Homo sapiens: one gene and its partner. The protein of the gene in region 2 interacts with the protein of the main gene of each other region in a pairwise test. Each region holds a gene or a part of one and is shown on either strand. Other genes may lie near its edges.

What was found.
Region 1: the proteins of EIF5B (region 2) and SRSF12 interact in a two-hybrid assay, tested with the Homo sapiens proteins (one large-scale study listed by BioGRID).

What each region holds. Positions count from the first base shown.
Region 1 is NC_000006.12:89,101,072-89,104,571, reverse strand, and holds part of SRSF12 (serine/arginine-rich splicing factor 12), read left to right. Parts: intron 1-3,500. UniProt on the Homo sapiens protein: Splicing factor that seems to antagonize SR proteins in pre-mRNA splicing regulation.
Region 2 is NC_000002.12:99,389,389-99,392,888, forward strand, and holds part of EIF5B (eukaryotic translation initiation factor 5B), read left to right. Parts: intron 1-329; coding exon 330-461; intron 462-830; coding exon 831-1,013; intron 1,014-1,155; coding exon 1,156-1,317; intron 1,318-3,500. UniProt on the Homo sapiens protein: Plays a role in translation initiation.

The DNA.
Region 1 (3,500 bases), on a different chromosome or scaffold from region 2:
TGAGCAGAAAAAAAAAGTAAAAAAAAATACATACTCAGCCGCGTGCAGTGGCTCACACTTATGATCCCAGCACTTTGAGAGGCTGAGGTGGGCAGATCTCGAGGTCAGGAGTTCAAGACCAAACTGACCAACATGATGAAACCCCGCCTCTACTAAAAATACAAAAATTAGCTGGGTGTGGTAGCCACGCACCTGTAATCCCAGCTACTCAGGAGGTTGAGGCAGGAGAATCACTTGAACCTGGGAGGCGGAGGTTGCAGTGAGCTGAGATCACGCCATTGCACTCCAGCCTGAGCGACAGAGCGAGACTCCGTCTCAAAACAAAAAGCAAAAAAAAAAAAAAAAAAAGGTGATGAGTTTTAGATAAATAAAATTTTCCTAAATGTGCCCAACAGTTTGTAATCTTCAACTTTAAAAATGTTTAAATGTGTAAGAAATACAATAAAATGTCCAGGTGCCATAATCTCAGCACTTTGGGAGGCTGAGGTGGGAGTATCACTTGAGGCCAGGAGTTTGAGACTAGCCTGGCCAACATGGTGAGACTCCGTCTCTCCAAAAAAAAAAAAAAAAAAAAAAAAAAGAAATATAATAAAATCCCTTGTGAAAGGTGGTTGACTAAAGTTAATGTAAATCAATTTACTTATAAAAGATAAGTTATCAAGAATAAATTCCAAGTATGGCAGTATTGAAGAAGACATATTAAATAGTAATTTGGGGGCAGGGGAAAAGATATTTTCAAGTTATTTATTTTGCTAGCCAGGAGTTTATTTCTATTAGAATAATAGTGAATCACAACAGAAATTAATTATATGGACCAGGTGCAGTGGCTCACGCCTGTAATCCCAGCACTTTGGGAGGCCAAGGCGGGTGGATTACTTGAGGTCAGGAGTTCAAGACCATCCTGAGCAATATGGTGAAATCCTGTCTCTACTAAAAATTCAGGCCAGGCGCAGTGGCTTACGCCTGTAATCCCAGCACTTTGGGAGGCCAGGGCGGGGGCGGATCACCTGAGGTCAGGAGTTCGAGACCAGTCTGGCCAACATGGCGAAACCCCGTGTCTACTAAAAATACAAAAATTAGGTGGGTGTGGTGGCACAGGCCTGTAATCCCAGCTACTTGGGAGGCTGAGGCAGGAGAATCGCTTGAACCTGGGAGGCAGAGGTTGCAGTGAGCTGAGATCACGCCACTGCTCTCCAGCCTGGGTGACAAAGCGAGACTCTGTCTCAAAAAAAAAAAAAAAGAATTTAAATTGATTGTTTCTAAATGCATTACAGCCTTAGTGAACCAGTTTTTTTCTCTTGCTTGATTTAAATAAGGTGGATATTCACATCATTTTCTGCCTTCTAGTGGAAGTAAAGTATAATACTTGACTGTCTCAAATCATCCTGGAGTATCAGGGATGGAAGGACCACATCTTTCAGGGCAATGCTATTCTGCTTTGTACTTGTTATAAGACCATTGCTTAACCTCCCTGACACCAGTTTTTCTCATTTTAAAAACTGTCTTATGGCCAGGTGCAGTGGCTCACACCTGTGATCCCAGCACTCTGGGAGGCCAGGGTGAGATCACTTGAGTCCAGGAATTTGAGAGACCAGCCTGGGCAACATAGTGAGACCCCCATGTCTACAAAAACTAAAAAAAATTAGCCACGTGTGGTGGCACACACCTGTTCCAGCTACTGGGAGGGAGGGAGAGGGTGGACTGAGGTGTGAGGACTCCTTGAGCCCAGTAGGTCAAGGCTGCAGTGAGCCATGATTGCACCACTGCACTCCAACCTGGGCAACAGAGGAAGACTCTGTCTCACAACAAATAAATAAATAAATTATTAAAATGTAAAAAAAGGTATTCTGTAAATCTTTGTTAACTTTATATCAAGGAATGTGTATGTTAGAACTCTAAATGTTCCTGAACAGTGTTAAAATTGCTCCTCAACTCCCTTTTCTTTAGTCCAAATATATTATAGCGTCCTTCTTTTACTATGTTAGGATTTTTTTTCAAGGACATTTTCTTCATTTTGCTTCCTACAGCTGTCTACAAAATGAATGAAATTTAATAATTTCTAAAAGACTGTGAATTTATTCCAGAATATATTCTACATCAATGTATTTTCAGTATAAATATATAATAAAAAATTCAAGAGAGGCCAGGTGCAGTGGCTCATGCCTGTCATCTCAGCACTTTGGGAGGCTGAGGCAGGTGACTTGAGGTCAGACATGCCTGGCCAACATGGCGAAACCCCATCTCTACTAAAAATACAAAAATTAGCCAGGTATGGTGGCACGTGCCTGTAATCCCAGCTACTTGGGAGGTTGAGGCAGGAGAATCGCTTGAACCCGGGAGACAGAGGTTGCAGTGAGCCAAGCTCGCCCCACTGCACTCCAGCCTGAGTGACAGAGCAAGACTCTGTCTCAGAAACAAACAAACAAAACCAAAAATTGAAGAGGCTCTACATGGTGTTATCATTCTCCAAAGAAAGCTTTTTAAATTTCTTCATCTAGTTCAATGTTACTATCTAGTATCATTTTTCTTCAGTCTAAAGAATATTTAGTATTTCTTTTTTTCCTCTTTCAGCTCACCGAGAAGTACCAGGGCAGTGAATATTTAGTATTTCTTATAGTACACATCTGCTGATAGTGAATTATCTCAGCTTTTGTCTGAAAACATCTTTATTTAAAATTCATTTGTGAGAAATATTTTTGCTGAGGATAGAATTCTATATTGGCAGTGATTTTATTTTTCTCTTTAAAAATGTCATTCCATTGTTTTTCTGATACCCATAGTGAGTTGTCAGTCTTGTGGTTGCTCCTTTGAAAGAAATTTGTCTTTCATTCTCTGGCAAGGTTTTCAGATTTATTTTTATTTTTATTTTTTTTTGAGACAGAGTCTCACTCTGTCACCTGGGCTGGAGTGCAGTGGCACAATCTCGGCTCACTACAACCTCCGCCTCCCAGATTCAAGCGATTCTCCTGCCTCAGCCTCCCGCCACCACACCCAGCTAATTTTTGTATTTTTAGTAGAGGCGGAGTTTCTCCATGTTGGCCAGGCTGGTCTGGAACTCCTGACCTCAGGTGATCCACCTGCCTCAGCCTCCCAAAGTGCTGGGATGACAGGCATGAGCCACCGCACCCGGCCGGTTTTCAGATTTTTTCTTTGACTTTGGTTTTCATCAGTTTCACTGTGATGTGCCCAGTGTAGTTTTCTTTGCCTATGTGGGGTTTATTGAGCTTTTTGAAATTGTGAGTTAATGCTTTTTGTTAGTTTTGTAAAATTCTATGCTATTATCTCTTCAAATATTGCTTCTGCCTTATTCAGTCTTTCCTCTGGCTTGTGTGACTGTATGCTATACATCTGCTGTGTTCTTTTAGGGATTTCTTAAAATTCCTTTTCTCACACTGTATTTCGGTAGGATGTTTTTCTAATGATCTTTTAGTTAACTATTTCTTTTCTTTTTTTTTTTTTTTTGTCTTGGAGGTTTTCTCTTGTTGCCCAGGTTGGGGTGC
Region 2 (3,500 bases):
TGATTTGTTACAAAAACTGTTTCGGAATTCCAACAATATACATTAATAGTCTTAGGATAATTCTAGGATGTTATCTTTTGCAAACAAATGGCAGCCACTTAGGAACTCATGGAGGCTGACAGGGGCAGCATGGCACCACAGCAGTTTCTAATTTAAGAGCAGGTGCCGATAAGCAGTCTGAAAGGAGCTTTTGGTACAATAAAGTGTATGAGTAAGTCACACTGTTCTGTATATATGAGACACACATGAGGAATTTTCTGGAGCTATTAATACAGTTCTTGAATGTTCTGAATTTTTTAGAGATCTTTCTCATGAAAAAACTTTTTCAGATTGATAGGTTATATGATTGGAAAAAGAGTCCTGACTCTGATGTGGCTGCTACTTTAAAGAAGCAGAAAAAGAATACAAAAGATGAATTTGAGGAGCGAGCAAAGGCTATTATTGTAGAATTTGCACAGCAGGTAAGAAGGCCTTCCTTCTTTCTGAAGAGCCTATCTCAGAATATGTATTATATTATCTTTATAATGAAGTCAGCATTTTCATTAATACTGGTTCTTTTCCTCTGTTGACAGCAATTACTTTTTTTAAATTCTTCTTCCCTTTTCTCCTTTTTCTTTGCAGTCTGAATACTTTAATTTAGAAAACTGAGTTGACTTAGAACTACTTTGCTATAATACAGTTAATGCTTATAGGATATACATGATCATTTTTAGTGTTTATGAGGAGTTTCAAAATGATGAGCCATTTGCTCATCCGGCTTCTAGTGAGGCACACCTATTCCAGATACGTTTTCTTTACAGCCTGGCATTTTGGATGATTTTTGCTCCTAGGGTTTGAATGCTGCTTTGTTTTATGAGAATAAAGATCCCCGCACTTTTGTGTCTTTGGTACCTACCTCTGCACATACTGGTGATGGCATGGGAAGTCTGATCTACCTTCTTGTAGAGTTAACTCAGACCATGTTGAGCAAGAGACTTGCACACTGTGAAGAGCTGAGAGCACAGGTGATGGAGGTAATGATCAACTTTTCAGTTTATTGTTTTTTTTTTTTTTAAAAATAGCAAGTTCCTTGAGTGGAGGATATTTACTACTTTTAGATTTAATGAACATGGTGCATTGTATGTATGTCTTTCTCTTTGCATTAATGCCTTTTAGGTTAAAGCTCTCCCGGGGATGGGCACCACTATAGATGTCATCTTGATCAATGGGCGTTTGAAGGAAGGAGATACAATCATTGTTCCTGGAGTAGAAGGGCCCATTGTAACTCAGATTCGAGGCCTCCTGTTACCTCCTCCTATGAAGGAATTACGAGTGAAGGTATGCTGAGGTGGGAAGCATTGACACGTGGGGACTTGTACAGTGTTTAGAAGTTCTGCTGAGATGGTTTCCTCACTTTGAAAGCTGTTTGACTTAATACAGAACACATACATCCCTCGCTCTCCCTTTTATTTTAGTTGTCATCATACAGGAAGGCCTGTCTGTCAGAGTAGAGATGTGTGAAAGTACCTGCTTACCAGACTGGGCCTTTGCCAGATTCTAAACTACACTGTTATGGTTCTACACTGCTAAATACGGTTGACTCTTGAACAACATGAGGGCTAGGGGCACTGACTCCCTGGCCAGTTGAAAATCCACATATATTTTTTGACTCCCCAAAAACTTAACTCCTAATAGCCTACCATTGACCAGAAGCCTTACCAATCACATACACAGTCGACTAACATGTTTTGTATGTTTTATATATTACATACTGCATTCTTACAGTAAAACAAGCTAGAGAAAAGAAAACGTGATTAAGAAAATCATAAGGAAAATAGATTTACTATTTGTTAAGTGGAAGTGGATCATCATAATGGTCCTCATTCTCATCTTCATGTTGAGTAAGCTGAGAGGGAAGAAGGAGAGGGGTAGGCCTTGCTGTGTTTGGTGGCAGAGGCAGAAGAAAATCTGAGTATAAGTGGACATATGCAGTTCAAGCCCATTTTGTTCAAGGGTCAGCTGTAGTTTTTTAACATTTTTAATTGTGAAATAAAACATTGCTCCTGAAAAGTACACACAACATAGAAGAAAAGTTTAACACATTTTTGGGAAGCAACCAGATGGAGAATCAGAACGCTGCTGGCACCCAGAAGCTTCCTGTGTGCTTCTTCCTGATCAACTCCCCTGCCTTCCCCTCCTACCCCCTGACCTTTCATAGAGTTAACCATGGTTGCATTTTATGACAGTAACAAATATCCTTGCTTTGCTTTGTTTTTGTGTCTAAGAGTACTTCCCTTAGAAGTGTCTGTAGACTTTATGTAGAAATGGAGTTATTCTCAGTGTGTACTTTTATAGCTGGCTCTTTTTTTTTTTTTTTTTTTGGTGATAGGCTCTCACTGTCACCCAGGCTGGAGTGCAGTGGTGCAGTCACAGTTCACTGCAGCCTCAACCTCCCCGGGGTTCAGGTGATCCTCCCACCTCAGCCTCCTGAATAGTTGGGACTATAGGTACGCACCACCACACCTGGCTAATTTGTTTACAGATGGGACTTTGTCATGTTGCCCAGGCTGGTCTTGACCTCCTGGGCTCAAGCAATCCACCCACCTTGATCTCCCCAAAGTGCTGGGATTATAGGCATGAGCCACCATGCCTGGCCTATATCTGGCTTCCTTTAGTGAAAAAAAAAAAGTATATAATTTTAAGATTTCTATTCCATTGTGTGACTATATCACAACATATCTATCTGTTCTGTTGATGGGAAATGTAGGTGATCTCCAGTTTTTTATGTTTATTTTATTTTATTTTATTTTGAGATGGAGTCTCAGTCTGTCATCCAGGCTGGGATTACAGGTGCACGCCACCACACCCGGCTAATTTTTGTATTTTTAGTAGAGGTGGGGTTTTGCCGTGTTGGCCAGGCTAGTCTCGAACTCCTGACCTCAGCCTCCCTAAGTGAGCCACCGCACCCGGCCCAGTTTTTGATTTTTGTTGTTACTAATAATGCTGCTGCTGTGAACATCTCTTGATGTGTTTGTGCCAGTTTCCCAGGGTATGTATACCTAGGAGTGAAGGCCACACTTGTCTACAGTGGGTGTAACAAATTATATTCTCAACTGCAGTATTTTAGTTTCATTGTTTTACAGCTTCATCAGTTCTTGGATGTTAGGTTTTAAATTTTTTTTGCCATTCTGCTAAGTGTGTAGCTCATTGCCGTTTCAGTGTGCATTTGCCTAATTGTTAACCTGGTTGGTCATTTAAAAATGTTTATTGGCCATTTATTTCCTCCTTCGTGAGATGTACATTTTTCTTCTGCATTATCTTTCTTACAGATTTATATGCGCTTATATATTCAGGATACCGGTTTGTTAGTTGGTGTGTTTTGCAATATCTTCTACTCTTGTGACTTTTTTTTTCCTGTGGTATTTTGAGAAATGGAAATATTTAATTTTAATGTTAAATTTATCAGTCTTGTGATTATTGCTTTTTGTGCCTCGTTTAAGAAACCTCTCTCTAATATCATG